Regions from separate parts of the Homo sapiens genome. Here region 1 is linked to region 2. The links come from fine-mapping of genetic effects on gene expression. A gene starts in region 2. The other region holds a variant in brackets. All regions are shown on one strand. Distances are from middle to middle. Region 1 has its middle 20 kb from the start of BET1-AS1. Region 2 holds the start of GNG11 (G protein subunit gamma 11).

Region 1 (12,150 bases), 26 kb after region 2:
GTCCACTGTTGATGGGCACCTCGGTTGATTCCATATATTTGCTATTGTAAATAGTACTATGATGAACATGTGAGTGTATGTGTATTTTTGGTAGGACAATTTTTAAAATATATATATACCCAGTAATAAGACTGGGTGAAATGGTAGTTCTGTTTTAAGTTCTTTGAGCAATTTCCAAGCTATTTTCCACAGTGGCTGAGCTAATTTACATTCCCTCCAACAGTGTATAAGCTTTCCTTTTTCTCCACAGCCTGCTCAGCATCTGTTGTTTTTTGACTTTTTAGCAGCAGCCATTATGACTGGTGTGAGATGGTGTTAATATCTCATTGTGGTTTTAACTTGCATTTCTCTGGTGATTAGTAATGTTGAACATATTTTTGTATGTTTTTTGACCACTAGTATGTCTTCTTTTGAGAAGTGACTGTTTGTGTCTTTTGCTTACGTTTTAATGGTCACTCCAAATATTTACAAGTTGAAAATGGGACCGGTTGAGCTATCAAATACCAGGAGGGTAGAGAAATGGAACACCTGATCAGTTTACATTTTCTGTTGCTTCTGAACAGTCCAGTCAAAGTTTCTTCATTTTTCAGTAATGTGCTTGTTGAACTGAATCCCATTTATTTCAAGCTTAGGCCCAAATTTGATGGCTCCCTTGTTTGAGTCACACATATGTTCACTAACTATGCACCAAAGCACAAGCCTGAGATAACTGCTGTGCCAGCCACCCAACAATGGATCACAAGTTGCCAGCACATAATGGGTTCTCCAGCACATAATCGATTCTGCCCTATGAGTGCATTTCTCTTTGAGACCTTTGGCATCTTTTCTTGCCTGCCAACTTTGTGTTACATTGGTCCAATCCAACAGATATTTTAGCATCAAATATTAGGGAGCAGGAGTTCATTCCCTCCCATAAGGCTCTGAACTTCTTATGAAAATTGGTTTACTTCCTCCTCTATGATCAGCTTTGGGCAGCAACATGTGATGTGAGCAGGCTTCCTTAGGTCATATCAGTGGATCCTACTGGCAGGCACTCTGAAAGAGAGTGCAGGAGTGAGCCTTTCCGGACTAAAGTAGGCCTATAGGTAATTTACTTTTGTTTCCTCAGGAAGAAAAGAGGTGGCCACTTCGAGTACAAGTCACTCAGTTACATATAAGATAGTGTGGTAAGAAAGTTATAACGATTGACATAAAATTCCATAGCCTCTTGCCAAGAAGGTGACCATCCTTGTCTTATCATGGCGTTGAGTTTCATCTGCACTTGAGGTGTTGGTTAGATGAGAAGAAAACCTGACTAACCTTTGCTGCACACTGGGGTTCTTTTATTTCTCACTTGAATTCTTTACTGTATCATTTACAAACCTTCTCTCTTTTCTTCAAGAGTCCAGCACTATTTCAGCCTGCCATCTTGCTGGCAAATGTCCTACACGTCTACTCAGTGGAAAAGTTTGAAAATATCAGATGTACATTCCCCTAATTTTTCTCCTACCTACATGAGAATGTGTTAATTGTTCATCTTTCTTTCCTGGTCCTTCTCTTTTTCGATGGAGAAACAAGTGTCTCGTTGTTTTCTGTTCTTGTTTTTGGTTTTGTTTCTTTTACTAAGCCTGTGTTTTTGAACTCCGGTGTCTGTGGATCTCCTGGGACCTAAGTTATACCTTCTTGTCTTAGATTTTCTACCTCTTGCCCTCAATTGGTTATGTTTCTTTTTTCTGCCTAAAAACATGATTTGTACAATCTACCTAAATCAATAATAACAACAATTGTAACAACAAAGCAAAAGAAGAAATTTTTCTTTGTTCCTGCTTCCTGTGAGAGCAATACTCTCTATGGTTTTATTCAATTTCAGATCTTTTTATCATCAGGTATTTCATTGATTATATAATTTGCCTGCCTCCATTCCTTACTAATTAATCATACTTAACAATAATATTATTCTTAAATACATGCATTTCTTTCTCATCTTTTAAACGAGTCTCCATTTTTTCAGAAGAGAAAAATTAAATTCTATTTCTTTTGAAATATTACAATCTTATTCTCACTACCAACTTTCTCTCTATGACTTTCCAACTGCCAAGTCCAGTGTATTGAAAGTCTCATTCACTTGTGACCTTCTATATAACTGGAATCTGGTTTCTACTCAAAGCCTTTTCCTCCTTTGACATCAAAACCTCGCCTACCATGCTCCTCTGCTTGCCTCTGCCATTTGGAGCTTTTCCAACTTATTTGATAGCAACACTTTTCAGGCTCTTATACACAGACATACCATGATCCCTGTCTTACACACTTCTTTCTTTATCCTTCTGCATGCAGAAACTCACCACCAATCCAAAATACATTTCCCCTTACAGAAACCCTCAATTGCCTTATTTTGCCTTCTAATTTAAGTACAAACTATTTGGCTTCATGGTTCCACAACACACATTTTGGATCTCCTATGCCAGTATTTTCTACTTTTGTTCATCTGTATATACCTATCCAGAAACAGCTGGTTGATAGCTAAGTAAATCTTAAGCTTCTCTGTCTCCCAGTCACTGTGATACTATTTATTCTGTCTGAAAGTCTACTTGTCTCTCCCCTTCTCGCCACCTGTCAAGGTGACTGAGGCTAGAACGCAGACTGTTCAAGGGCATGACAACGACTTGTGGGTTAAATAGAAACTTGCTTAGTAACTAGCCTTTCTTGATATATTATTCTTGAACAAGTTCATTTTGTTTTTTCTCATCTTTCAAAGAAGTCTCCATTTTTAAGGGAAAAACTGTAAATTCTATTCCATTTAAGGAAATGTCCCATGATATTAGAAAGCAAGTTTATTCCTTTTTGGATTAAGAAATTTAAAATGGTTAATGTATATTTTATTTTTCAGTGAGAAAGTTAAAACTGCACTAGAATGACATTCCTCACTTCTTTCTTTTGTTTTCTATTTAAATTGTACATTTTGCTGTGTGCTAAAGCACTGGACTCTGTATTATAGAGAGACTGTGGGTGGTATGCATTTTGTGACCGTGTTAGTTAAAGCATGATCATACTGTTGACTGGTTTGGCTTAGACAGTAGGAAACATCTGGCAGTTTCCTGATATTTATCAAGACAGAACTGTGCTTCCTTTAAAAACAGTTTCACATGAACAATGCACTACATAATAGCAGAGGAATTTTATAACAACAAGTATAAAAACAAGAATGTGACTATTAAATATAGACATTAATTTTATAATGTTAATCAAAAAGTTAACTCTTTTTGATTATAAAGTTATACTCTAGAAATATATCAATGTTTATATTATAAATCCAGAACAGAGTGTTTGTTCTTGCTGAAAAGAATATCAGAAAATTGATCTGAGATAGTAGAGCGAACTTTGATTTATAATTCTTTGACTGTAATGTTCAAATATATTTACCTAGCCTGGCATAGTGGCATGTGTGCTTGCAGTCCCAGCTACTTGGGAGGCTGAAGGAGGTGGATCACTTTGAGCCCAGGAGTTCGAAGCTGTTGTGAGCTATGATTACACACTGCACTCCAGCCTGGGCAACAGAGCAATACCTTGACTCTAAAGCCAGTCCCAAATGAACTTGGAAGGAATAAGAATAGATCGGATAAGTGAGTGGGGTCTGATTTTTTTCTTTTTGAACCCTGTAGGTTTCAAATCCCAAGTTCCAAGGTCTATATCTTTCAGCTAAGGAACCTTAAAGTAGGGTGGCTTTTTATGACTTTTCCACTTTCATATAAATCTGTGATGGATACCTAAATGTGGCCTTGCTTCTGATCTGTATGTCAGAAAATTGGACTAAATAACTTACAGTTATGGTTCCAGAGTTAGCAAATATATCAACCCTTTATGCTTGGCTCAAAGTAGATATTGCTAATCAGTCACTGAGTGCTCTCTTACCGAGCTAGAACAGCCCTCATAATCTTTTCCAATAGCACTGCAGGTTTACTAATCAATTGGAGTTGACATGACATGTTAAACCTATTTGCTTTCCCAGGTTTAGACTTTCCAAAATATAGCAAATACAATCATTTGGGCAAAACTTATCATTAATCGCTTTCCAAAAGAAATGCTGAAAAACTATTTTGGCAGCCCCTCCTCTCTGCCTAATACATGGCTATTTTAGGAGACATATAACTGCATGTGATCTGATTCCTCCCTTATCTTTCTTTTCCAGTAGTGTCTGCAAAGTTTATCTCATCCAGTTTGAATAGACTTCTGAGCACATCGCTCTCAGGTCTTCACAGCTAATCTATTTTCAACCACGATATAACTTCCTATATCCAAGACAAGGTGTCCTTCCTTTTTAAAATAACTTATCTTTCCCAGTTCCTTTAATTCCTTTAGTTTCTTCCGTTTTCCTAAATGTTCATCACTTAGTCACTTCTTTACCTTATTATGTCTCTTCTCTCCAATAATTGCCCCTCCTCACTAAAAATATGCTGTCAGTTTTTCCTTGGCTTTAACCAAGCATGCAAAGCCACAGACTTTTCACCAATTCTACTCCCTACTTAAACTAGCACATTATAACATTTTTCCCCCTTTAACCACAATGTCTGTTAAAACACCAGGCTGTTTCATCAATCTCTTCTTAATTCCTTGCAAGGATTTTTAAACTCTTGGAATTTGCCAAATGCTTTCTTTTCCTTTTAGCCTCTCAGTAGCATTCTTGACCTGCTCCGTTTCTCTGGCTTATCTAGCCCTGCACAAAATGAATTTCTTCTTTGCTTGTTCTTTTTGTGTTTCCTTTGTTAACATTTTATATAATTCCTAAGGCCTTATTCTTGACTTTCTTCTCTTCCCCTTCTCTACGTCCTTCTCTTTGGAAAACTCAACTTTGAAATTTTCAGCTATCATCTCTTTACAGCTTTCAAATTAATGTGAGTACTCCAGGCTTCACTCTTAGA[G/A]GTGAGTTTCACATTTTCAACTCCCCTTCTGAACATAAACAGTGACTTTCTTTTTCCAATTACTTTTAACCTTAAGGAGACTTTTTAACCTGTGTTTTCATCTGTTGCATATCAGGCATGCCAAATTTAGTTGCTGTCCTTCAGTGTGTTTTCTGGGCCCCATTCTTCCTCCCGGTTCCATTGTCTTCTCGATTAAAGCTTTTATCACCCCAAAACAGAAAGCTTAAAATAGTTACATTGCAGCTTCATATTCCTGTCTCTATAGTCTTTTTTCTGAAAGCCACCTTGCAAAAGATCTTTAGGTTTGCCATCTTAAACCACTGTTTTAAAACCATATGTCTCTTGTCGAAAACCATCATGGGATTGCTATTATCTACTGAATGAGAACTGGGCTCCTTATTCTGACAGCCAAATTCTCCATAAGCCAGGCTTAACCTACCTTTAAAGCTTGTGCTCATGTCAAGCACACTACTTGCTGATTCCAAAATTTGCCTTGATTTTTTTTTTATGAGTGTGCACTTTTGTTTTGCCACTTTAGATTTCTGGAATTAATTCTTCTACTTCTATATTCCATCTTTTAAAATTCTACTCAATCTTTAACAGCCAACTCAAACAACTTCAGCATTAGCCTTGAGGTAGAGGTGTGACCAGGTCCATCCAGGTGGGGCACTGACCAAGAAAGAAAAAGAAGGAGGCAGTCGAGGGACATCTCTGAAGGGGCATAAGATTTATGTCCAACAAAGACATGGATGCTAGCTAATACCATGGGATTGCTTAAGGTGAGTTGTAAAAGTGAGCAGAAGAGAGACTTGACATGGCCTGAAGGCAGGCTAATAGTTATCTTGGGAGTAGGAAGAAGAAACATGCAAAAGACACCAGCAAGTTGTGGTCAAATACAGGAGAAAAGCCAGGAAAATGTGATATGATACAAGTCAAAAGAAGAAAGTTTTTCAAGAGGAATGTAGTATTTGATATTTTCCAATGTTCCTAAGAAATCAAAAGAGATGAAAATCAAAAACAAAAACAAGTGGGTGGTGGGGAATAGAATTTAGTGACATGGGCCACTGGGAACATTGATGAGAGCTCTTTTGGTGGAGTGGTAAAGGGTCAAGCCAGATTAGTGTTGGCTAGTGATCAAGAGATGAAGAAGTGGAGACAGCAAAAATGTATAATATTTCTGGAGAGCTTGTTGTGGCTGAAAGAGAATGAGGAACGAATCTTCTTTCTTGGGAGTGGCTGGAGGTAGCTTAAAAGCCATTAAAAATATTCAGGTTTAATGGGAAAGTTAGAAGATAATGCAAAGAGAAAAAACATTTGAGTAAAGTTCCTAAGATAGGGGGAGAGGATAAGCTCAAAAGTCAGGAGATTTAGTGTGAGCAAGGAGCAGGCCACCTCCTGTCTTGCAAAAAGACAAAGAGTAGACATGGGTGAGGAGAAAAGACATGTGTGTTTGGTGGCTTAGAGCATGTGATTTAGAGATTGAAGAAATGTCCAATTGATGGCATCTATTTTCCCTTTGAGATAGTAAGTGACATCAACCTCTGACACCAAGGAAGAAGTGGGAAGTAGTAGGGATGGGAGTTTCAGGAGAATGTAAACGGTTTGAAACAGTCATTGCAGAGTAATGTCATTGCAAAGTAATTTGAAAAAAAAATTATTGGAATGCCAGAAAAGAATGTAAATGAAGAAAGACTCAATATGTGGGTTTATTAAGGACTGGTTTGTTAAGACCAGTGTGATCAAAATATGGGACATAAGTACATTTAGAATGTGGCCAAGAATGTTTTTTGGGGATTTTTTGTTTTTGTTTTTGTTTCTGTTCAGGGATAGAGTCTTACTCTGTTGCTCAGGTTGGAGTACAGTGACAAGATCATGGCACACTGCAGCATTGACCTACCAAGCTCAAGCAATCCTTCTGCCTCAGCTTCTCAAACATCTGGGACTACAGTTGTCCACCACCATGCCCAGCTAATTTTTTTGAGTTTTTGCAAAGATAGGGGTCTCACTGTGTTGCCTAGGCTGATCTTGAACTCCTGGGCTCAAGCAGTCCTCTTGCCTCCCAAAGTTCTGGGATTACAAGCATGAGCCACCACACCTGTCCTCAAGATTGTTATTGGAATGGTGGAATATATATTGTGAAGAGGAAAATGAAGGAAGAAAAGGCCAGTAGGTTTAACAAAAAAAGAAAGAAAGAGAGAAAAAGGAAGAAGGAAGGAAGGAAGGAAGGAAGGAAGGAAGGAAGGGAGGGAGGGAGGGAGGGAGGGAGGAAGGGAGGGAGGGACGGAGGGAGGGAGATAAGGAGGGAGGGAGGGAGGGAAAAAGGGAGAGAGGGAGAAAGGGAGGGGTGTAATTGGATTGGCAGTCCTGATGAGATTCAAGAAGGGTCTCTGATGCCTTACCTGATTACTCCCATCTGGAAGCTGTTTTTTATCTAGCTTCCCCAATCACGGTTGTTTGAACTGCTTATTATTGAGATGTTATCCACCATATACTGCCCTATTTCAATATGGTATGCTAGCTCACTTATGTGGGCTGGATGTGTAGTACAAGTGTCTACACACTTAAACTTACTCATGATAGGTAATCAATAAATATTTGTTGAATGAATGAATAAGAGAAGGGAAGAAGAACAGAAAGGATGAAAGTAAGAACAATATACTTTAGCTTAGTCTTTTGTTTACAGATTGTTGTCAACACATATCTTACTGATTATATTTCCTTTTCTTGCAACTTTTAAGAATGAGTATATGGTATTTTAGTCATTTAGTGATCAAAAGATTGATCAAAAGATTAGATTAGGTTACTCAAACCAACAAATGTTTTATTTGACCATTAAACATAAATTTGTGCTCTCTTTTTATTCACAACATGAGGCAGAAAATTGTGAAAGTTTCTAGTAATTACAATTCAATCCAGAGAGCCAGTCTGGGAGTGAGTCACCCCCTTGTCTGGACAGTAAGTGTCCATTATTTACGTCAATATGCTCTGTGGCTGTGCCTGCAGCTAACCCTGAATGATAGCAAATGTCTGCTTTTCCAATTCTTTTTCAATTTCCTTCTTTAAGAAGAAAACAATTGAATGTAACAGGATAGAACTACACTGAACATCACTATTAAGATAATGGCTTACTGAGTTTGTTGTTCATGACATGAATGCTGTTCCTGTTACACTAATAATTAGCCATCTGCTAAAATGTGAATTTTTCCATTTTGAGCTATGAATCTGTAAAGAATATGAGCACATTGATTTACTTCCTTTGAATTTTTTTATTACAATTGTATTGATATCTTTCAGTCCAGTTTTCCTTCCTTAACTTAAACGTATCCCTTTCCTCTTTAAGGATATTTCATGCAGCGTCAAGATACATACAAAGTAAAAAGCTTAAAATTTTTTTAAAAAACTGTCCATTAGATTGTGAAGTGCTATTTTAGTGACAATACTAAATCGATATTTGTTGTGTTATGGCTGAATTGAGTGAATTTTTCACTTGCCTAGTTAATTTTCTGTATGTGAAAAGAGTAGATCTCTTTTACTGAATACATCAAAGTTTACATGCATGATGCCTAATGGCCTAATTGAGGTAAACAACATTACGCTCCATGAGTAGAACTTCAGTCTCTTTTGTTTCTGGTACTAAGACTAATTCTTTATTTTAGGAATTATTATTATTATTATTTCGGTCATTATCATCATCATCATCACAATAGTCATTATCATATCTGGGACCTCAAGGCCCTTGCCATCACCAGGAGGTGACGATGAGTATCTCTTTTTATAAAGTACTCTTAAAGGCCTCATGATAGATGTGATTTAATATACATCCTTCAAGGGGACAAATCCTCCCCAACTGCATTCCTCTTGTTTATCCATTTTTTGAAGATTTTCAGATTTCTAGAGAATAGTTATTGTGGTGTGGTATGAAAAAGAATGAGGAAAAGATTTGAATTCAGAGTGGTTCAGGTTCAAATTTTGTGTGTATTAGTTGTTTGATTCTGACTAGATTATTTTGGCTTTGTAAATATCAGTTTCCTCATCTGCAGATTAGGGATAATTGCTACCTGACATGATTCATTTATTCAACATCTGTTTCTTGGAAATCTAGGTACTAGGTAGGTCCTGTGAACAAGGTAAATGGTTGATGACTTTGTGAAACCTACAACTTATGGAAGACATCAAGCAAATGATTTTAATTTGAGTGGCAGTATATACAATGTTTAAGAACTGAAAGTCTGGGCCCTATCTACCTGGGTTCAAATCTCAGCTCTGGCCCTTACTGGCTGCAGCAGTTTAAATTGCCTAATCTTATTTTGACTCAGTCTCCTCCTCCTTTTATGGATAAAGGTGGGTTTTCTTTTTTCTTCTGATGAGAGGACTCAAGTTCAGAAAGCTTGAAATAAAGTTAGGGGTAGCTCATAACTCAAGATGGCATTTTAAGGAAAAAATACCTTCATCCTTCAGAAACCTGAACAGAAGTGGAAAAATAACTGCAGTTCTTTAAATAAGCTTTTGAATTTGAAGGTCTGTGTTGGAAACATGACTGGGACACTAAGGTCCAGTTGGAACCACTGAGTCACCACCTAAATGTATGTGTTTTACTGACCTCTGATGCTGCATGGAAAGACCAGGCTTCATTCAGACATATACATGAAGTAGGACAAGATAAAAAGGAATCCTGATGTGAATAACAGATCAGATACATGCAAACACATGATCACACAGTTGGGAACGTGTATTGCTGCTGCAAACATTTTCAGTCTATGAAAATAGAAAAACATTATCCATTCTTTAGAGAGAAGGAAAATAATGAAAATGTTTAAAACTTTTTATGATTCAAAATCTCTCTTTTCCTGTCTTAAAATATTCAGAATGCCATTAAATTAAGAAAAATATTTATTGAATATTTAATTTTGCCAGGATAAAATTTAATTACTTTATATCATGTCATAAAGTTTTACAGCATGTAGTTACTTGTAGCATTTATGACAAGATGAATGAAAAATTTGAGTAATTACTTTTTTTGCAATCTTTTTCGTAGTACTTGTTTTGTGCCGGGAACTGTTCTAAGAGTTCTAAGTATAACATTCCACAATTACGTAGGAAGTTAATTGTTGGTTTTTTAATAGATTTCTTTGATCAGATTTAGAATTTTCTCTTCCAGTCCTACTTTGATGGGAGATTTTCAACATTAACAGGTATTGAATTTTGTCAAATGCCTTGTCTGCACCTATTAAATGGATCATATAATATTTCTATTTATTTCATTAATACTACTAATTGCAGGGTTGATTGATTTTGTGTTGTCAATCTAACTTGGTGTTTCTGGAATAAACTTCACTTAGTCATGATGTATTATCTTTTTCTCTGTTATTAGATTAAATTATCTAGTATTTTGTTTAAAATTTTCATATATAATTTTACGTAGAATATTGGTCTATGGCTTCCTTTCCTTACAATATTTTCATCAGGTTAGTAGTAGGGTTATGCAGGCCTCCTGAAATTAGTTCAAAACCATTTCCTTTTCCTTAATTTTTGCAAAATGTTTTTGTATCATTTCTATTATTTCATTCTGCAAACTTAATAATATTCATGAGGGGAGGTGTTTGGGCCTAGTGTTATCTTTGTTTATGATGATGAATTCAATTTATTTAATATAGTGGTTTTAGTAGTTCTTAAGTTTTAGTATGCATCACCACCATTGGGAGGGTTGTCAAAACACAAATTGTTGAGCCTTCCTCAAAGCTTCTGTAGGTCTAGAGTGGGGCCAAAAAATTTGCATTTCAAATAAGTTCCCAAAAGATGCTGTTGCTGTTGGTCTTCCAACCATGCTTTGAGAACCACTGCTTGCATAGATAGAGGACCATTGAGCTGATGATGCTCTTGGTAAATAATAACAATAAATATTTATTATTTTTAATTTTAATATGTGTTCCATGCTGATACGATTTGTGTCCCCATCCAAATCTCATCTTGTAGCTCCCATAATTGCCATGTGTTGTGGGAGGGACCCAGTGGGAGATAATTGAATCACGGGGCCAGGTCTTTGCTGTTCTCTTGATAGCGAATGAGTCTTGCGAGATCTGATAGTTTTAAAAAGGTGAGTTTCCTTGCACAAACTCTCTCCTCTCTTGCCACCACCAAGTAAGAAGTGCTTTTCACCTTTCGCCATGATTGTGAGGCCTCCCCAGCCACGTCGAACTGTGAGTCCAATAACCTCTTTCTTCTGTAAATTGCCCAGTCTCGGTTGGGTATGTCTTTATCAGCAGTGTGAAAACGGACTAATACACATACCTAGTTTTCTTTTGATTGTTTTTTCTTAATGGTATATTTTCTCACTTTTTCATGTATTTTGTATTTTTTTTATTGACAGCTTGTCATTGTGTAAGAAAGATATGCTTAGTGTAAGGTCTGGAGTGCTACAGAATTTTTGTCACTTCTCTTCCTCTACCCTCAGACTTCAACAGGCCTTATTTTCCTGCACCTTACATTGAGTCCTTTTAAGAATGACATCTTTCCCTCTAGGGTAGACAGATCATCACTGCCTCGTACTTGGTGTAAGGGCCATATTTCAAGAAGTTCTTCTCAATTCTGCTTTTTCCTCATTCTTAGGCAAACCTTCCTGCATCCCAGTAAAATTCATCTCAATATTACTGATTGCTTGACACCTTATAATTTCCTTGAGACTTACATTTTTGGCTCTTAATTCAAATGAGTTTTGCCACTGCTCTCTGCTTATTGATAAGATAATTATGTATTCTGCATCTTTGTGTGCTCTCTGGTGATAGATTATAATATAATTGTCCCTGCCAGAGCTGCTTTAGTTAAGTGCCTGGTAGCACAAGTCATTTTCCTCCCCAAGGGTTTGTAAACTTAATCTTCTAAAATCTTTTTGTTGTCCAGTTACTAATAGAATATGCATTTTGGAGAAGGGCAAAAACAGATATACCTAATATTTAGACCTAGTCTCAATGGAGTTCGTCTTTTATGAGAACTTTTATAAAGAAATGGAAGAAATCCCCTCCCCTTGTTAAATTTAAAACAATGAAGGTTTAGTGGGCCATACCTGCTGTTAGTTTGAAAAACATGGTAAAGAGCAGAATTGACTCTATGCCTGAATGTTCTCTCCCTTTTACACACATACAAATGTACACACACATTTTACACACATACAAATGTATAACCAGGAGCCTGTTATTGGTTATTTTCACACTAATTCAACAGAGTTACATCAAGGATTAAGAGAACTGGAAAGATGTCA
Region 2 (12,150 bases):
TGGTCACGGAGCACGGTGAATTTAACCAGCAGCAGAATCACGGTTATAAGCATGCACTTAGGAGCCAGACAGTTCTGGCTCTGCCACTTTACTGCCCAACTCACTTTGGATAAGCTACTTAATTCTTTCTAAATTTGTTTCTCCTAGCATAGGATGAAGACAATAATGGTTATATCTTCTGTTTTGTGTAGGGGTTAAGTAATACACTAATGCAACTATAACACTCAGCATATTACCTGGTCCATGGTAAGATACAATAAGTGTTAACTAGTATTATTACTGAGAAAGGATCTAGACAAAATTTCTAAAGTGCTTTAAGAAACATGCTATTTTACCCTATCATCATGAAGACTCAACACCACAGTCTTTTCTTTAACAAGGTGAGCACACATGAGAGAGAAATCTCCATCACCTACATCAGGTCCTTCTGGCATCCTGTTGAGTTTACATGAGTCACATTTCACTACCATTGTGTTAATGACTAAGAGAAAACTTGCCTCTGCTTCTGTAACAAATGACAAGTTGTAATTACCTAAATCAGTAACCACTTTTGTGGTCAGTGTTTTCTTGTTGCTGTCTCACATTTACAGTGCTATTTTGTATACTTCAGTGATCAGAATACTCAGAAATACTAATTGATTGTCACACTTTAAAAAAAAACATTAAAATTATCTATTATTTGGTCTGGAAGGGAGTCTGAAAGTTGTACCAAAGTTTGGCTTCTAGCACAATGCCCTCCCACTCTGATCATCATAAATGCTCAACAAATATCTGTTGACTCTTGTCTAAACTCTTCATTTTGAAATGGAGAAAATAAAGTTTCAGAGAAGTCACCTGACAAATTTCTTCGGTCAAGACTCTGGGCTTCTGGCTGAACAGTCAGCAACACACCCCACCACGTGTCTTCATCAAATGTGCTCTGAGTATTAAGGGATTCTGGGATTAGTTACTGAATGTCTTATCTATTTTTCCTCAAGAAAAGCTTTTTATCCTCCTATTTAAATTTACAAAACCCTCTCCATACAGTCCTCCCAACCTCCACCAAGCGCTTCCTGTCTCTCTCTCTCAGTCTATTTTCCCCCGTAGCACCATCACCACCTGGCATACTACAATTTATTTGTTTATTTAATTGTGGTTTGTCTCTAGAAGTTTTCCACCTGCAAGTTAGTATTTATTTAGTGAAGTGTTCAGTATATCTCCCTTTCTCTGATTAAAATAAATACAAAGTAAGTACATGCTATGGCATTCAGTAACCTGTAGAAGATGGTCCTAACCAACATCTCTAACTTTCAGTTTACCATTGGAGACAAAGTTTGCAGCCCAACAATTCAAAATTAAAACCCTGACTCTTCCACCTTGTCATTGAGAACTTGGACAAATGACGTGAACTTTTTGAATCTGTTTTTTTTTATATATAAAATTAGTGATTAGGCTAGATTATCTGAATACTTATAATCTCTTAGATCAGAAACGGGTACATAGAAAGAAGCCTAACAAATGTCCTCTATTATTATACTTCCCGTGGACATTTTCCCACCACCTGGAATTTGGTCATACTGATCCCTCCACCTGAGATCTCCCTCCACTCCACCCCATTTCAGCCTTTTGAAATCCTACTCTTCTTATGAGACTATCTCTCCCATTCTACCTCAAGAGTATTTTGTGTGTCTCTTAAGTCATTTAACGTTACTTTACTTTTTCTCATTATAATTTCTACGGTTGTTTTAATTTCAGTACTACATTGGAGATTTCCCAAGTCAGAAGCACTGTTCATCTTTGAAAAGTGTCATATCAACTAACAAATTGTCTGGACAATGTAATTGACTTTAAAAGCAGGCAAGAGTGGTGCTTATAAAAGTTTATATTGGATCAAACTTCCTAAATGCCTCAATAATGTGTTTACATGAGGAAAATAGTAAACTAAGTAATGAGAATGATCAGTTATATATGATGGGAGTTAAAGTAATATAGAAACAAAATTGGTAAGAGAAATCATTTATTTTTATTTGTATTTTATTTTATTTTATTTTTTTGAGATGGAGTCTTACTCTCTCGCCCAGGCTGGAGTGCAGTGGTACGATCTTGGCTCACTGCAATCTCTGCCTCCTGGGTTCAAGCAATTTCATGCCACCACACCTGGCTATTTTTTTTTTTTTTTTTTTCAGTAGAGAAGGGATTTCATCATTCTGGCCAGGCTGGTCTCGAACTCTTGACCTCATGTGAGCCTCCTGCCTCAGCCTCCCAAAGTGCTGGGATTACAGGTGAGAGCCACCACTCCCAGCCAGAGAAATCATTTTGATATCCTGAATTATAAGTAGTTGCTAAGATACTCAGAGCATCAGACACAGATCATCCTTTGACTTGGCATTCTCTTCATCTAGAAAAGGAATCTTAGGGCTGGGTGCAGTGGCTCACGCCTGTAATCCCAGCACTTTGGGAGTCCTAGGTGGGAGGATTACCTGAGATCAGGAGTTTGAGACCAGCCTGGCCAACATGGTGAAACCCCGTCTCTACTAAAAAAGAAAAGAAAAAAAGAAAAACAAAATTAGCTGGCTGTGGTGACACACGCCTGTAATCCCAGCTACTCGGGAGGCTGAGGCAGCAGAATCACTTGAACCCGGAAGGCGGAGGTTGCAGTGAGCAGAGATCGCGCCATTGCACTCCAGCCTGGGCAACAAGAGTTAAACTCCTTCCCCTGCCCAAGAAAAAAAAAAAAAAAAGAAAAGGAATCTTAGGTAGGTAGTTACAGGAAACAAATGAGCTCCTGAAAATTGCCTCATGATTGTTTTAACAGATTAAAACAAATATCAAATGAACCAAGAGCGTCTGAAGTGTACTTTCTTTAAAGAAACCATAATTTCAATGGTCAAAACAGTTACTATGCACTTTTTAAATTTATTTATTTATTTATTTATATTTATTTATTTTTTTGTAGAGACCGGGGTCTCGGTATGTTGCCTAGGCTGGTCTCAAACTCCTGAACCTTTGGTCTCAAGTGATCCTCCTGTATCGGCCTCTCAAAGTCACTCTATAAATTTTAGAAGAGCAGACTTTGAAAGGTAACCTAGTTTACTTACACGAAATAAAAAAGCAGAAATAATGTGTTTCTTGCAAAAATCACAAGATAAAATAAGACCAGAATCCTGATCTTTTTTGAGTTCAAGTTAGTATTAGCTCAATTCCAGTTTAACTGCCTTCAATGTTTTATTTTTCTTTATATAGATTTTTAACAACATAACAAATCACAAAAATTGTCAAAACCTTGTTTTTCCTATTTTTGCATACCAAAGTAAAAATTTCATGGTTGTTACTCTTTTATAATTTAAAAGTGAAAATGGTTACTTTTATTTTTATTAACTAATTTCTATAAAACATTTGTGAAACGACAGTGGGCTAATTAATCAAAGTTCATTGCTGGTTGCACCTGTCATTTTTACTAAAGAATGGTTTCTACTCATACTACTTGTAAAATAAATTTTACCGGGGTACTATGTAAAATATAAGTAAAAACCTAACAAAACATTTGGACACAGCTAAACAAATTTTAAAATTTATTTATTCAAAATTTTTGAATATTGCTGATAAACTATTTCTGCAAGTATACATGAGAAATTGCTTAACATGGTTCTTCTCTGGGAGGTAAATTCGGTGTCTAGGCATAGAAGACTACACATCCTTTTGTTTAAAAAAAAATATTCTCATCATTTTACTATTTAAAACCAAACAGGGCCAGGCGCGGTGGCTCACGCCTGTAATCCCAGCACTTTGGGAGGCCGAGGCGGGCGGATCACGAGGTCAGCAGATCGAGACCATCCTGGCTAACACAGCGAAACCCCGTCCCTACTAAAAATACAAAAAAATTAGCTGGGCGTGGTGGTGGGCGCCTGTAGTCCCAGCTACTTGGGAGGCTGAGGCAGGAGAATAACGTGAACCCAGGAGGCGTAGCTTGCAGAGAGCCGAGATCGCGCCACTGCACTCCAGCCTGGGTGACAGAGCAAGACCCCGTCTCAAACAAACAAACAAACAAACAGGAAACCAGCAACAATAAAACCTTTTTCAGAATCCTGTGTGATCATGCAATTTCAACATTTTGCAATTCACTTCAGTTTAATCAATTTACTTAAGATATTAGAATATGAATTATTTAATAACAATAAAAAAGACTAACAAGTATTTTGTTTCTAATACGTCTCATAATACGATGGGAAAAGTTAAAGAACCAATATGGGCTTATAAGTATTTATCCCTCTAAGCAACTAGATGATTTCATGGGAAAGAAACTTCAAAGCCAAAATAATTATATTTTTATGACTTAGAACAAACACACATTAACAAAAAATTAGTCAGGCGTGGTAGCGGGCGCCTGTAGTCCCAGCTCCTCCGGAGGCTCAGGCGGGAGAATGGCGTGAACCCGGGAGGCGGAGCTTGCAGTGAGCGGAGATCGTGCCAGTCACTCCAGCCTGGGCGACAGAGCGAGACTCCGTCTCAAAAAAAAAAAAACAAAAAAACAAAAAAACAAAAAAAAGAACAAAAACACAATAATTTATTTAACCAATTTATTTAACTTAGGTGCTGAACCTATTTAATTTAGGCCACATTCACGTTGATTACTTTCACTAATTTAAGGTATTTTTGACCAACCTTTTAAATTTAAGTAATAGAAAATTTTAAAAATGAATTAGTGCACAAGACAGATATGGACATTTGTCTAGTCTCCCTGCTTATTTACAAGTAAACTTCAGTAGATGCTCTAACTACTCTGAGCTTGGAAAACCCTGGTATTTCAAATATTGAAAGTGAAGCTCTTAAACATTTTCTTTGTGAAAATGATTTATCATATATAGACATACCAACACAATTAGAGACACAACATAGCTTAGCTGATTCACTACTTCCCTGCCTTACTATACATTTTACAAATTAGAAAACCAAAACTAAGAAAAATTAAATGACTTCTTCAGTGATGGCCTGTGGCAGAGCTGCAACTACACGCCAGGAGTATTCATTAAGTGGTTCATTGTTTTTTTCATTCTAATTTATTCATTGAGGTTGAGCGGAGCGTGGTAAGAAACTAGGAACGAACAAAAACTCCTGCTTCCTAAACAGGGAATGGTCATGGGTGTCTTGGGTCAGCTACTCTGAAATATTAAGTTAATATTTCACTTGCCTTTGACTCTGTGAGGCAGGAGGTTATCTCTGGAAAGAAAGAGAAATATCCAACTGCTAGGGAAGGTTTCTTACATTCATGTTTGATTTTTCTTCTACTCTTTTGACCACCATCAACAAGACTTTAGTTACAGTTAAAGGGAAAGTTTTATTGCATGTAAACTTTTTTCACATCGGACACTTTTCCTGGCTTTCCAGAGCAACAGCTAGATAAATAGTGCTTGCCAGAAAGTGGAGAAACTAATACTAAATGAATCCACTGCCTACATCCAGGAAGGTTCAGGAGCCAGGAATTCAAAATCCTTGGTGTCAAGTGTCACCCAAAACTTAGGGTTGGGGAGTGGAGAAAGGCTTTCGGTTAAGAACTCTAAGATTCCTGCTTCTGTCTTCTCTTATATCATCCTTTGATGCACCCCTCTACATAACATTCCCCCGGAAAAATAAAAAAAATACAAACTCTGCTGCTGTTGAGGATGCAGATGATTATTTAATAATAGAAAATGTTCTTGCAACTTGTAAACGATATTCACACCCTGTTGCCCCCTCCTCGCCCAAAATGTATAAACCCATATTAGGCCTCGAACAAGCCGGATGGACACAAATGAGCAGAACACTGGTGGGTATTTCTGGGATTAGGGCTAAGCTTCATTTTCTTTTCAGCCTTTTCTTAAGCGTCCGCATTCTCCACTATGCATTTATTACGTTGGTGCAAAACTAATTGCACCAACCTATATATGTAATTAGAGAAAAGTAATTACTTTTGCAACAACCTATGTATGTAATTAGGGAAAAGCTATATCTAGCATATTTTTAAAACTCTTTGAGAGGTGAAGGGTAGTTATTTCCTGCTGGGTAGTGTACTCCTTTTCCTAGCTTCACAAACAAAACCCGGATGTGACTTGGAAACGGAAAAAAAAAAAGGAGCGGGGGTGCGCGGAGAACACAAAGTAAAACTTCTGCTGTTCCCAGTCCTGCAGCCCCAGCCCAGCCGTCCCCCGCGGGCGTGGCAGGTCCTGAGTCAGGGCCTGTCCGTGGCCAGCATCCCTGCTGGGCGATTGAGCAGCGGGAAGCTGCTTGGACCCAGTCTCAAACTTAACCCTCATCTAGCACCCGGGCAGGCCTCCTGGGTTGCAGGGACTTGAGAAAAGGCAGAGTTCTCAGGTCCTAGGAAGCTGGGGCACGCTGGCGTGACAAGCGTCCCGGAGAAAGCCAAGCCCTCGGGGAGCTGGGGACCGCAGCAGGGCTGCAGTCACATCCTGCGCGGGTGGGCGGCGGGCCAGGCCTTCAGTTGTTTCGGGACGCGCCGAGCTTCGCCGCTCTTCCAGCGGCTCCGCTGCCAGAGCTAGCCCGAGCCCGGTTCTGGGGCGAAAATGCCTGCCCTTCACATCGAAGATTTGCCAGAGAAGGAAAAACTGAAAATGGAAGTTGAGCAGCTTCGCAAAGAAGTGAAGTTGCAGAGACAACAAGTAAGTTGGCTGTTCCGGAATATTTCCTTCTCTGAAATGAAGCAGGGTCCGATTTTTCCTGCTTAGTAACAGTAAAGCAAATAGTTTAGCTTATTTTTCCCCCTTTTTGTAGCTTCTCTTCTCACCACCCTTTGGCAGTGCCTGGGGACTGCCAGCTGATGTGGGGAAATCCTAGGAGGTAGAGGAGGGAGCAAGGATCTGATAAGTAATTTAAGGCCAAATGTCCTAACTTTTAAGATGCCTAGGAAGGGGAAAATAGACAAGAAATCTTGCTTTCCATTAGACAGCTGTTTTTCAAAACTCACTTGTAGGAAAAAAGCGGATAGCTACTTGGTTCTTTGATCTTTTACACTACTAGAAAGGATGATATTTGAAAGAAATTTTCTAAAACCGTATTTTAAAGTCTTACAAGTACATTATTTAATTTTGAATTTCACCAGTGGCCTTCAGTGATATGCAAAGAACAGTCCACCGAAATTTGGGAACAAAATATTAGAATTTCTATATTTATTTGTAAATCTCATCCCTTTATAATTTTCACTTTATGTTTTATTAGTATGCGATTAATACAGTAGTATCTGTACTTATTTATAAATAATTATACATACACTGTGGTGCATATGAAAAATTTTTTTAGTGATCACAATTTTAAAGTTTTAGAGACTATTGATAGAGATTACCATTTCATTGAGAACATATGACCCAGTATTCAATATTCTCCACTGAAACGTCTCGGGAGTTTTATAAGTTTTACTTCAATTTCTTACTGGTCATCAAGACCTTCCTTCAGACACTAATCCCTCTTCCTGTTTTAACTCAATCAGGCATCCTGTAGACTAGGAAAGGTCTTTGAATAGATATTGTTTAAAGATAATTAACCTTTCCTCTTCAGCAAGAAAATTTTGAACTGATCTTATTTATTATGGTTTAGCACTAGAAAAAATTAAGAAAAACAATGGAAATGAAGCGTTATAATATGCTCACTTGCCTTCCTGTTCTAGTTATAATAAATCTGTTAAGGGCAAGAGTCTTCACTGTTGAGTGATGATTAGAAGATGCAGGCATTTTTGTGTTTTACTTTTTACATATTTCTTTTCTCAAATTTAACCTTTCACATCCAAATCCCGGCTCTTCCTAGCTTTTATAATGAGCTGTCCCTTCTATCATGTTAAGGGTTTGTAGCTTTAAAAACACCAACGCGTTTAAAGGGGAAAAAAAGGAAGTTACACTACCCAATCAATAAGCACGCTTCTTGAAACCTTAAGGGACCCATTTTATGGATGGCGAAGTTCCCAGTACAGCAAGTGCTGGCCACTTAGATATGTTCACACAATAAACCTTAGGAGTTACATATTAAACAGAGTTTCATATGCTGAAGTACAGCATTGTCTATGCAAGGTTCTAATATCTTAATATTTGGTATCACTGTGTAGAACTTAGGAAAAAAGACAAGCGTCTTCTACTTACTCAGAGTTTTAAGTTAAGTGATGTGGATGCAACCGACTATGTAAAAATTGACTGTATCATTCATTAGCAGTTTCTCCCTGCTAGCCAGCCTGACCCTTTAGGACACGGCCTGTGGCATCAACTTCCCACCTCCAGAAACCTCAAGTGTATGCCAGAGGGAGAAAAAACTTTGGATATATGTAACCTTAGGAAATACAGAAAGAGGCATCTAAATCTCAACAATAATATTAAGACATTTGATTATACACTTGGAATTATACATTATTATTGCTAGGCAAGCATTGGAATGTTTAGAGATCATTCATCTCCCTCACTTTAAGGATTAAAAAAAACTTGAGTCCCACAAAGGCTAACTAGCTCCACATTTAAGACCACAGAGATAGATAGTGATAGGGCAGGTACTAAAACATTCTTCTTCTCATTCCCAGTCCATTATTCAGTCAATAAATAGTTAACATCTGGGCTACGTGTTCAGTCCTTAACTTAGGCCCAGACAAAACTTGCAAGTTGCATTCTGGCTGTAGTTAAATGTTTATCAAACATGTCCTCTTGATTATGGAAGGAAATGTATCAGAGGAGCAATTACTCACATTTGGAGGTTACAGACCTCTTCTGAAACCTAATGAAAAAACCTTGTAAGAAAAGATTCAATGTAGGGAGCATGTATCTTGCTGAGAAATTAACCTGGGACGACAGACCCTAAATTATGACACGTGCATTATCAACTCTAAAAATTCACTTAAAATGCATGCACTCTGAATGTCAACAAACGAGAGCAAATGTTACCTGAAAGAATTGTATTTGAAAGATTTTATTTTGCCAGATTTTAAGTCACACAACTACATCACCTAGTTTTCAATTTGAGGTCAGAGGCTTCCACACTGATTTGCAGAGGATAATCATTTGGGGTGTGGAAGTAAAATGTTAACATTGCTATTTCTGTTTAGTTTTAAACCTCACCCATTTATAATTTCCAGTTTATGTTTTATAATTTTGCATGATGTATTAACAAAGCAGTGTCTGTACTTATTTGTAGTTAAAAATTATATTCATTTTGGGATACACATGCAAACATGTTTTAGTAGTAACCGTTAAAACAGTTTGAGGTTACTAATTTAGATTACTAATTCAATGGGAACATTTGCCCAGTTTTCATAGGTCTCCATTTAAATTTGCTGGTGCGGCCTGGCGCGGTGTCCCACGCCTGTAATCCCAGCACTTTGGGAGGCCAAGGCGGGCGGATCACGAGGTCAGGAGATCAAGACCATGCTGGCTAACGTGGTGAAACCCCGTCTCTACTAAAAATACAAAAAATTAGCCAGGCGTGGTGGTGGGCGCCTGTAGTCCCAGCTACTTGGGAGGCTGAGGCAGGAGAATGGCTAGAATCCGGGAGGCGGAGCTTGCAGTGAGCCGAGATCCTGCCACTGCACTCCAGCCTGGGCAATAGAGCAAGACTCCATCTCAAAAAGAAATAAATAATTAAATTAAATTAAATTTGCTGGTACTTCTGTAATTTTTACTTTAAATTTCTTACTAGCAATACAGGCCTTCATTAAAACCCTAATTTCTTTTCTTTTGTTTTTATTCTTTTTTTAATTCATTCTTGCAACCTGTCTTTTAAGGATAGATAGACTTTTTGAAGAAACTCTTCTTTTAAGAATAGACTTTTTGAAGACACTATTCAATTTTTTCTCCATCTCAGAAAAAAATTTATTCTCAGATAAGCCTAATAAGTCTCAGATAAGTCTTTTATTATGATCATTGCCCTCATGCAGCAGGAAGAAATTCTGAGGAGCAACACAGAGTGCGATATTTGGACAATTCCAATCTTTCCAGAATCAGGCTTTTTCCAAAGCTTCTATCATTTCGTGAAATTTCAGAACATGGCACACACCCATAAGTGAGAATCGTGGCATTACACACCCCAAAACATTTGGGGATTATCTACTACTGCACCTGCTCACTAGCATGGAAAATTAAAATAAGAGTATATTTCAGTTCCTAAAATATTGTAGACATGGCATAATTGTATTTTAGCAGAGGAAGGAAATCATATGAGACACAATGGAAAAAAACTGCTGGAGATGATTTATTTAATGCAGTGACTTTCAAACATTTTTTAATTTGACCAACGACCAACAGTAAGAAATATATTTTACATAGGTTGCATCATAGGTATAGTAATAGAATAAAAATATTAGAGTGCAGAGCCCAGATTTTATATATGTATTATATATATAATATATACACACACACATGCACATATATATGTAAATGTAAAAAAATGTTTAAAAACTTATTGTATTCAATTATACTTATTTCATTAAGGCGTAGGGACAAAGTTTAAACAACCCTAACCTAATGTATTCTCTTTTTTTTCTATACTTAAGGTGTCTAAATGTTCTGAAGAAATAAAGAACTATATTGAAGAACGTTCTGGAGAGGATCCTCTAGTAAAGGGAATTCCAGAAGACAAGAACCCCTTTAAAGAAAAAGGCAGCTGTGTTATTTCATAAATAACTTGGGAGAAACTGCATCCTAAGTGGAAGAACTAGTTTGTTTTAGTTTTCCCAGATAAAACCAACATGCTTTTTAAGGAAGGAAGAATGAAATTAAAAGGAGACTTTCTTAAGCACCATATAGATAGGGTTATGTATAAAAGCATATGTGCTACTCATCTTTGCTCACTATGCAGTCTTTTTTAAGAGAGCAGAGAGTATCAGATGTACAATTATGGAAATAAGAACATTACTTGAGCATGACACTTCTTTCAGTATATTGCTTGATGCTTCAAATAAAGTTTTGTCTTGGGAAGATGAGTGTTGGTGATTTAAGAAGACACTTTTCATGCATTAACTTTTATATTTCTCCCCGTAATCTTTTGGGTGTGGAGTATGATTGGGTTTGGAATATGATTCAGAAGGTTAGGTGGTTCGACAGATCACATCTCCAAACCCTGCGTCAATGGTTTAGAGTGCTGAGTTCTGACCTCTGGAACGTGTTTGATCTAACCTTAACTATTAAGAAACTGAGCAGGTAGAATTCCTATAACATTGACAGAAGTCAGATTATCTGAGTCAGGAACAAGGCCAAGCCACATCTATGTTAGTACTTCCCTAGTTTATCATCATTTAGATCTTCTTAATAGTGTTCCTGTAGTAGTAGCCTTGAAGAAAATACTGAGTTGGGGTTCAGGAAGAGTGCCCTGCCTCTCTGCCGTGTAGTGGCCAGGCCAGCCCTGGCTTTGAGAGCCAGTACTTATTCCTGCACAGAGCTACATCTCCCATGTGCTCTCCAGGTCTTGGGCATGGCACTACTCCAGTTCTGTGGCATTGGTGCAGACACTTGGACCTCTGCACTCATGCTTGCCAGCATTTTCCAGCAGGCCTGGGCCAAACATGCCTTTTTTTCTTCTCCTCCAAAGGAACCAGTGAATCTTTGCCCACTTTAAAGATTAGTTGGTCTTTTTCTTACTGATTTGTAGGAATTCTTCATATATTCTGGCCATTTATTCGTGTTTGGTGATATGTGTTGCGAATACCTTCTCCCAGTCTGTGGCTTACCTTTTCACAGTGACCTTCCCTTCAGTGGTTTTATCCTGCAGGGCAACACGTCAGAGTATAACTCCTGCTCAAGTTCATAACAAAGGTACCTGAAGCCCAAACCTCACAAAAAGGGACCTTTCTTTCTCACCTTGAGCATTCTCCCGCTTCTTCTCCGTCTTTTGGGTCAAAATTGCTCCAAGTTTGAGCCAAAAGAAAAACGTGGAAAAACCCTTGCTGGTTAGCTCTAGCTCAAATGGACTTAGTCATTAACTTGACCTGCAATTTTCAATGTGGCACCAGAAGCCAATGTTTCTCCTTGACTAGCTCTTTTCTCCCACTTACACATGTAGGTATACCTTACTATCAAGCGAGAGAGGCGCCTGTAACCTGTAGCAGCTTTCTAAAGTATATCAGCATCCTCGTTCTGAAATTCCTTTCCTTTCCCTCTCTGGGAAAGAACAGAATACCCCAGGCTTTTGAAAAATAGTTTACACAGACCAAAAGCA

The links.
Region 1: its variant is fine-mapped to the expression of GNG11 in whole blood (TOPMed, PIP 0.94).

Annotation. Positions count from the first base shown.
Region 1 is chr7:93,941,805-93,953,954 of GRCh38, forward strand. No RefSeq gene overlaps it. Among named protein-coding and RNA genes, the nearest start is that of BET1-AS1, 20 kb to the right of the region's middle. The variant G/A (reference allele first, on the strand shown) is at 4,896.
Region 2 is chr7:93,915,602-93,927,751 of GRCh38, forward strand. It overlaps GNG11 (G protein subunit gamma 11), which reads left to right and starts at 6,134. Exons shown (of 2, transcript NM_004126.4): 1 at 6,134-6,632; 2 at 10,490-12,150. The coding sequence starts at 6,537. The coding sequence ends at 10,615. LOC105375402 (a long non-coding RNA gene) reads right to left here. Exons shown (of 3, transcript XR_927751.3): 2 at 835-919. RefSeq lists an enhancer at 5,736-6,371.